Regions from separate parts of the Homo sapiens genome. Here region 2 is linked to region 1. A link means that fine-mapping ties the variant in region 1 to the expression of a gene that starts in the linked region. Tissue or cell type: unexposed skin. Region 1 holds a variant in brackets; the other region holds the start of a gene. All regions are shown on one strand. Distances are from middle to middle. Region 1 has its middle 12 kb from the start of CRB2. Region 2 holds the start of STRBP (spermatid perinuclear RNA binding protein).

Region 1 (4,385 bases):
ATGTGCAGAGATACACAACACACCTACAAGATTCAAAAATATCCTCAGTACACATCTACAAACACACCAGTCCCACATCCACAGACACACAGACCCCTATGCAATCATAAAAGCCCAAACACCTGTGTACCCAGCGCACTGCACAGCCCGGGAGGCCCGCCAGCAGCCGGTGGACAGGGCAGAGCTGCCGTGTCCCTGTGCTCACATCCAGGGACAGGCCTGGAGACCCCGCCACCCTCTGCAAGGGTCTGGCAAAGTGCCACCTCCTGTGGGAGGCCAAGGACACCTGGCCCCTCAGAAGTGCCTGGGTCGATTTCACAGCCACGTGCCAGGCAGCCTGGCTCAGGGGCCACACTGACCTCACCCTGGACAGGAGCGTGTGAGCATGTGTTCCAGTGTATGTTTTACTGGGTGGGGGGGTGTGTGGGGAGCTATGGCAGGAGCAGCATAAAGATGACAAGAGACAGTTTACCTACTATATCAGCCTGCTTACCTCCCTCCCTTGCTCCCTCCTTCCCTTCCTGCCTCTCTCCCTCTCTTCCTTCCTTCCTCTGCTATTCAATAAGGACCTTTAGTGAATCCGGCAAAACCAAGACACAGCCTCTGCCTTCCAGGAGTGCAGTCTTGGCGTAAGCAGACATGCCTGGGGTTGAGCTGTTATAAGACACATTGTGATCATTGCTAGGAGGCCTCAGGGAGGCCTGGCTTTCATCTGGGGCTGTGGGACATTGAACGATTCACGTCCTTCTCTGAGCCTCAGCTTCCTCAGCTGAGAGAGACCACATGCTCCCTGACCACCTGTCGGGTTTGTTAATAGAATCAAATGTCATGATGAAAGTGGCAATGCTTAGCGGGGACAGGGACATTTTTCTTAAAATAAGAGCCAGGTCTGTGCTAGGCTGTGCATCAGATCTGTGATATGGGAATGTGGTTAACTGCATGGGCCCTGCAGTCAGGGAGTCTTGGCTGGGTTCAGATCCCTGCTTTGCCAGGACTAGCTGTCTGAGCTCCAGCTTGAGCTTCTATTTTCTCATCTCTAATATAGATGCAATAATAATAATATCCAATTTACATGAGTGCTATGAGATAACGCATGTTAAGCTCTTAGAACAGGGCCTGCCGGCCAGGCGCCATGGCTCACGCCTGTAATCCCAGCACTTTGGGAGCCCGAGGCGGGTGGATCACGAGGTCAGGAGATCGAGATCATCCTGGCTAACACGGTCTCTACTAAAAATACAAAAAATTAGCCAGGCGTGGTGGCGGGTGCCTGTAGTCCCAGCTACTCGGAAGGCTGAGGCAACAGCGTGAACCCTGGAGGCAGAGTTTGCAGTGAGCCGAGATTACACCACCGCACTCCAGCCTTGGCGTCAGAGCGAGACTCCGTCTCAAAAAAAAAAAAAAAAAAGAACTGGGCCTGTCACAAAGTACATGCTCAATTAAGCTCCTATTCTATATAGGCTGTCATGTATTCATACAACAAACACTGAGCACTTACTATGAACCAGGCATGATTCTAAGTGCTCTCCAAATTCTAACTCATTCAATCCTTTTAACAACTCTATTATTATCCCCTTTTTGCAACAAAGAAAACTGAGGCACAGAGAGGTCCAGTCACTTATTCAAGGTCACACAGCTGGTAGAAGGCAGACCTGGACTGAAACCCAGGTCTGTGGGACTCTCTGAATCTATCTACAAGGTATGTACTTCCCTTTTATAGTTCAAAATCCTCCTCCCCTCTCCCCAGCAGCAGCCCCTGTTAAATAAATCATCCAGTAACGGTTTCTAATTCCCAGACTTGGTTGCAAATGAATTATTCACATGGTAAGGCCTGCAAACTGCCGGCTGGGCCTCATTACCCAAGAAAGGCTGCCCGCCCGCAAGATGC[T/C]GCTCCCTCCCCTGGGCATGGGTCCTGGCAGGTTGGCCAGAGGTGGCCAGAGTTGGTGGGCCCCGCTCCAGTGCCCTGCTCCGGGAACTGGGAAGAGCAGCTCTTTTCCTTTCCCCCGGCCCTTGCTTTCTAATAAGCTCACAGTCTGATGTGGCTGAGAGACCATAAGCTCTGGACTCAGCCAGTCCTGGGTTCCAATCCTGGCTCTGCCCTTAGCAGCTGTGTGACCTTAGGCAGGTGGCCAGCCCTCTCTGAACCTCTGGGGGAGGCTGAGCAGCTGGCCCACACAATGCGGCACAGGGCACCACTTCACACTTCCTCTTCTTCCTCCATTTGCAGGCTGAGGCTTGTGCTGCCCCTCCAGGCCCTGTGCTAGATGCTGGGGACAAAGATCCTGTCCTGTGGGGACATCCAGCGTCTGACTGAAACACTGGTGTGAGCCTGAGCTTTGGGGTGGGTTGTGGGGACTACTCTGTGCTCCAGAGCCCCTCTTCAGGGCCAAGCTGCTGGGACTGCTGTTACCTCACTGGGTTATACCCCATGCCAGGGACAGCCTGTGGCCAGTGCCTGACCCATGTGTGGCTGCAGAGGCACGGCTCCTTCTCAACTAGGAAACCCTAGGGGATCGTCAGCTCCAGGGGTCCTCGTAGGGACCTCAGTTGCAACCTCACGGTGGGTCAGTCTCCTTCTGCCCAGTCAGCCTTGCTCCTTCCTTCCAGGTGGATCTCCCAAGGACATGCCCCAAGAAACACACGTGCAGTCCAGAATCTGTTTCCAGGAACGCAGGCTGAAATACTTGTCACAGACAATCCTGGCATTGAATGAGACCCAACCCAGGTCATCCGCAGACTCATCGTTCCCAGGCAGACTGAACCTCAATACTGCTTACAGACGGAGCCTAGTTTCCACCCCAGTCTAAGCTCAGATCCTAGTCCCAGACTGAGCCCAGGCCTCCCATGGAAAGCAGAGGGCCATTTGAGACAAAATGAAGAGAGGCTGCGTGGGAGGTAGAAGACTGGGGTGTGGCTTACACTGAGAACTGAGCCAGACTCACCCGGTCAGCCAGGAAGTCAGAGTCACGGAATCTCAATTCAGAGAGGTATTTCTAAAAAACACCTAAATGGGTTCCTCTTTATGGAAGAACCAAAATCTACCACGACTGACAAGAAAAATCCTAATAGCTGTGGGCACCAAGCCATGGGATCTACTTCCAGGTCCCTCTGCTTCCTCGGGACAACCCGTAGAGTTCTATTATCACCCATTTCATTTTATTTCAGTGCTTTATTATTGTGTTATATTGTATTTATTTTGAGACAGGGTCTTGCTCTGTCACCCAGGCTGGAGTGCAGTGGTGCAATCACAGCTCACTGCAACTTCTAACTCCCAGGCTCAAGCGACCCTCCTGCCTCAGCCTCCCAAGTATCTGGGACCACAGGCATGTGCCACCACACATCATCAGTTTTATTATTTTTTGTAGAGACACAGTCTCCCTCTGTGGCCCAGGCTGTTCTCAAACTCCTGGGCTCAAGCGATCCTCCCACCTTGGCCTCCCAGAGTGCTAGGATTACAGGCATAAGCCACCACACTCATCCTATATTATGGTGCCTTTTATAGACAAAGTGGCCAAGGCTCAGAGACATGCATGACTTGGCCTCTGGCCCACACTGTATTTCTATAGGATCTAGGCTCAATCAGGGGCTCATCTCCCAAAGGGAGACTCATAAGGAGCATCCAGGCCCCTCTGTCACCTGAACTAGCTAGTCACCAAGTTCCTAAGTCTTGCCCAGGGCAGCAGGGGTGTCAGGGAAGGGTAGTGAGTGGCACATGAATCTGTGCAACTGATCCAGCCCCAAATTCTGGCAGGCCATCATTCCCTTCTGGGTGTCCCAGTTCCTATCATTGGATGCTCAGAGTCATCTCCATAAGGTAGGCACTATTATGCAGACATGGCACAGGTAAGGAAACCGAGTCCCCCAAAAGGGGATCCCACTTGTCTGGGCTCACAGAGCTGAAACTCACCTCTGGAATTTCTGATCCTTGGTCTTCCAGCCTCTGCCGTTCTATATGGAAGAACAAAGGCCACTTCCCCGTGTGCTCCACACCACGGATTCTTCATGCATCTGTCCATCCACCCACACAGCATCTCTGTGACAAGCATCTTCTATGCACCAGGTCTGGGCTGGGTGCTGGGGACTGAGTGGGGAACCAGAGGCAGAGCCTGACCTTGCGGAGTGTTCAGGCTGGCAGGGGAGCCACACAGTCAATAAACGTGCTCACAAGAAATGAATGCATCTCCATGTGCTAAGCACTGGGGAGAAGCAGCCTGGGAGATCATGAGTGGTGTGACAAGGACTGTCTCTCTTGGGAGTGTTCTCTGGATTCCAGGGAACTCGTGGGCAGAAAATCTGCAGAGATGGACCATGTAGGCTTGGCCTCGGGGGACAGAGGCTAAGAGAAAGTGTGAATTATGCCCCAAAGGAGTCAGCTCACTTGCAGAGGC
Region 2 (4,385 bases), 76 kb after region 1:
TTCGTATTTTTAGTAGAGATGGGGTTTTGCCCCATTGGCCAGGCTGGTCTTGAACTCCTGACCTCAGGTGATCCACACGCCTCGGCCTCCCAAAAGTGCTAGGATTACCAGCGTGAGCCACTGCGTCTGGCCTAACTTTTTACTTTCTTTCCTTTTATATAATTTGCATGCTTTTGTCTCAGTGTTTGGAGTTACAAACCCAATAAAGATATTGAAACAAGAAATACTATTGAATCCTTAATGCCATGCTGTTCTTCTATTTTAAAAAAATTAAAAATGTAACCAAGTGCTGGACACCGTGCTGAGTGCCTTAGATATACGGTTGCAATGAATCCTTCTAACAACCCTACAATATGCAATACTATTAGTCTCACTTGGCAGATGAGTAAACTTAGACTAGAGAGATTGATTTTCCAAGATCACACAGCTAGTGTGCAGTGAATCTGGATCTTTACAGTGTGGCGCCTCTTCTCCCTCTGATACTTATGGGCATCCTACAAAACCCAGCTTTAATGATCTCATGTCATGTGCACGTGTAGTCTTCCCTAACACACTTAGGCAGGAAGATGACCCTGTCCTCAAGGGACTGAGAGACCAGGGAGGAGACAGACAGCTAAACAATTACAATCTAGTGCCATGAGAATACATATAGCTTAACAGGACTATGTTCAAGCCGAGGGAGCTTAGACCATGTGTCTGAGGCAGCCAAGGATCTCCAGAGAATATACTCTGAGCTGATTGATAAGGATACCCAGGATTTTTTTCAGGAGGGTCAAGGAAGGTGTGAGTGGTCAGAGGTGGGGAGAGGGTTTAGAAAGGGATTTGCGGCCTGGCATCTGTCTCAGGAGACTCAGGCTCCTACACACCTGGGCATACTCTGGAAACAACAGTACTGTAGTTCTGTGTGGCTGGAGGGTCACATTGGCCTGAAGGAGGGGCAAAGGGAAGGGCGTGCACCTTGAAGCTTAAGGCCAGATCACCAAGGCCTTTTCAGTTGAAATTGGGTTTTTTACACTTTATTCTGTGAATGAAACAGAGCTGTTAAAATATTTGAGCCTGGTGTGTTAGAAAGATGAAAAGGGGCCCCAAGGGGGCTGTTGTGGGGAGTCCCTCCTCAACCCCTGGGCTGTTCAAGGTCCTCTGTCTTGGCACTGAGTGGTCAGGTCGTTTCTGCTCCAGGCTGGGAATTGTCTTAGGGCAAAGACATTGTCTCATTTGCCAGTGCATCCCTGCAGCCTGCAAACCCCCCGGTATACAGCAGGGACTGTATACTGGCAAGCAGAATGCTGGGCACCAAGAACTTGAGGCCAGGGACTGTAGAATAGAAAGCGAACCTTTAATTCTTCCCCAGCGCCGCCCCTGGCACAGAGCTGGTAGGTGTTCAGCCAAAGTCTGACCCAACCATAAGGAGGTCAGAGAGGTCCTGGGCCCAAACTCAATCCCAGCGAGGTTCATTATAGGCAGGTGAAGGAGAGGTGATTGTAGCAGCTTCTGTTCAGCGACTGCTGTGTGCCAGGATTCACACCTATTGTCTTATGCCATCTCCCCAACAGCTCCTAAATTGGAATTATTGTCCCAGTTTTCCTGATGAGGAAACTGAGGCTCAGAACGGTTCTTGGTAACTTGGCCAAGGTCACACAGCCAGCAAGTAGGTGGGCGGTGGCACAAGTCAAAGCCTACTGGCCTGCCCCTCTACCTCGGGAGGCAGTGCGACGCCTACTCCATTTGTGTGGCTGCTGGGGTTGGGGGGCATCCCGCACTGGGGTGCGGGGCCCGGGGAAGGCGGCTAGCCGCCGCGGCTCGGCGCAGCTCCCAGGTTCGGAAGTTACGAAGTTTCCGTGCATTTCGCTAGCCTCCCAGCGCAGCTCGTCTCCGCTCCGCCGCAGTTACGCCGCTAGCGCAGCGGGGCTCAGGTGCTGCAGCGAGCGGGGGCCTGGGGCCGGGAGGAAGGCGGGGACGCAGTTTACGTAAGCGTCCGCTGGCAGGTGCATAAGGCCGCCGGCGGCGAGTGCTCCCTGCGCGCTCCCAGGTGCGCACTTGGCGCAGGCGGCGGCACAGCAAGGCGGCGGCGGGCGCTGGCCGGCGCTCTCAGGTGCGGCAGGACGCGCGTGGAGGGGGCGCGCGGCGAACGAGGGGGCGGGCTTTCCGTTCCCCAGCAGCCGCGGGGCCCGCCCCCTGGCCTGGCCAATGGGCGCGCTCGACGGTGTCACGTGCTCGCTGCCGCCGCTGCCGCCGCCGAAGCGGAGACCGGAGCCGCGAGCGCCACCAGGGCAGCAGCCGCCGCAGCCGCCGCCGCTGGGCAGAGGAGCCGGAGACGCGAGCGGGCGAGGTGGCGGCGGCGGCGGAGCGGGAGCGGGTACCGGGCGCGGGCAGAGCGCGGCGGCGCGGGTAGGCTCCGGCGGCGGGGCGGGCGCCTGCGCGGCGGGCCGTCCCGGGCGGGCGGCGGTTAAGGCGGCGGTTGAGGCGGTTGGCGGAGCCGGCCCGGGCCCCGCATTGTTTGTTGTGCGTCCTTAGCAGCGGCGGCGGCGGTGGCGGCCGAGGCGGAGAGCAGGGAGCAATCCCGGCCCCGCGGCTCCGGCATTGTGGCCGCCGCCGCCGCCGCTGCGGTGCCCCGGCCGCTTCGGGCAAGGGCAGCGGGCAGCCTTCCTCACCTTCGCGGGGACGGGGTCCCGGCCGATCAGGGGAGGGCGTGGGCAGGGTTGGGGGACGCGGTGCCGGGAGGTCTTCCGGGACGGAGGGCTCGGGGCTCGGGGCAGGTGTTGGAGGACATTGGGGGCAGGAGCTGGGGAGAGGCTTCGGGGGGCAGGCGGAAGGTGTGGGCAGATTTGGGGGTAAATAGGGGTGCAGAGGGATCCGGCCCAATGGAGGAGGAGAGCCTTCAGGCAGGTTTGGGGGGCCCCCTGGGCCAGGCGAGTGCGAGATGGAGGACATTCCGTCCGGTGGGGGGGGGCACTATATTGTGGGGTTCAAGAGGGAATGAGGGGGCTTTTGGGGAGGGCAGGGACGAGTGGGGTGGGAATGGAGGGAGAAGACTGGGGACTCGAGCAGGACTGGAAGGAGCGCTGCGTGCCAGGGGCAGGGAGTGGGGCGGGTATTAGGAAGGCCACCGGGACGCCCGTGAAGGGGAACGATGGAGGAGGGGGTCGGGGCAGGGGGAAGTGAGGGCAGGCAGGGAGCGCCTGAAAGGGAGGGAGGGGAGCAGGGTGCCTAGGCTTCTGGGGTGATAGGGAAATGAAGGGTAGGCCCAGGGGCTCCAGGAGACCTGCGAGGGGTGTGAGGGAGTGTGTGGCCAGGTGTATAGGGGAGCCTGCAGGGAGGCGGGAGGGGGTTGACATGTAAGGATAAAAAGGCAGGTATCTGGTGCTCAGGGAAGAGGAGTATGGGGTGGAAGGGGGAAGTTCATTGGGGCAGAGACTTAGTTTGAGGGCTTGCAGAGAGAGGTGGGGACAGTAGGAGAAGGGTGATGGGGATGGAGAGCAGGAGGTGTGTGGGGCATTTAAAGGATAGCGGGAGAAGTGCGTGAAATGGAGGGTGTTTATGCAGGAAGTATGGAAGAAGGTGGGATCAGCAAGAGAGGGAATTTTGAGGTAGGACGGAGGGTGAGGGGTTCTTGGCAAGTGTTGGAGGACGTTAGGGGCAGGAGCTGGGGGAGAGGGACAGGTGTGGGGTGGCGTGGAGTGTGTGAGGTGGAGGGCAAAAGGGGGTGGGGAAAGGGAAGTGTTCTTGGAGTGGCAGGTAAAGTGTGGGGACAAATGGAAGGAAAGATTTCTGAGGCGGGAAGTGTGGAGCGGTTGGGGAGGAGGAAGGTGGAGGGGAGGGTGAGAACGAAATCAGTAGAGGGGGACAACGGGATAGACTGGAGGGGAAGGTGGACAGGTCTGGAGTACAGTAGGTGGAGGGAGGGAAGCACAGGTTTGGGGCACTGAATTTTGTGCTGTAGGGAGAAGGGAGGTAGGGAGAAAGAAGGAAGGTAGACAGGCTATTTTGGGGTAGAGGATGTAGAAGAATGCTTAATACCTATAGTGGAGTAAGGGAAGGGCAAGGCAGAGGTGTATGTGGACATGTCTGTAACTAGAAAGGCATAGGTGATGGATTGGAGTGGTGGTGGTGGTGGTGGGGGAAATAGGATGCCCAGGTTTAGGGCAGGAAATGACTGCTTAAGTTGGAGAGAGCTAGGAACACAGGTTGCTTAAGAGAGTATGGAAGATCCAAGGAGTGGAAGTATGGGGAGAGATTGGAACACTTTGAGTTTGAGAGATGAAAGGGGCCAAGATTTTTAGGTCACTGAGAGTCTAAGGAAGATCAGGCAGAGTGCAGAAGTTGGAAAAATAACTAAATGGAGAGGATTAAATTCCATACTGAGAGAAACTGGAGATTGAGGGGTG

The links.
Region 2: STRBP starts here. The variant in region 1 is fine-mapped to the expression of STRBP in unexposed skin (GTEx, PIP 0.94).

Annotation. Positions count from the first base shown.
Region 1 is chr9:123,342,117-123,346,501 of GRCh38, reverse strand. No RefSeq gene overlaps it. Among named protein-coding and RNA genes, the nearest start is that of CRB2, 12 kb to the left of the region's middle. RefSeq lists an enhancer at 2,751-2,810. The variant T/C (reference allele first, on the strand shown) is at 1,886.
Region 2 is chr9:123,266,439-123,270,823 of GRCh38, reverse strand. It overlaps STRBP (spermatid perinuclear RNA binding protein), which reads left to right and starts at 2,238. Exons shown (of 19, transcript NM_018387.5): 1 at 2,238-2,388. RefSeq lists silencers at 1,813-2,292, 2,463-2,512 and an enhancer at 1,912-2,412.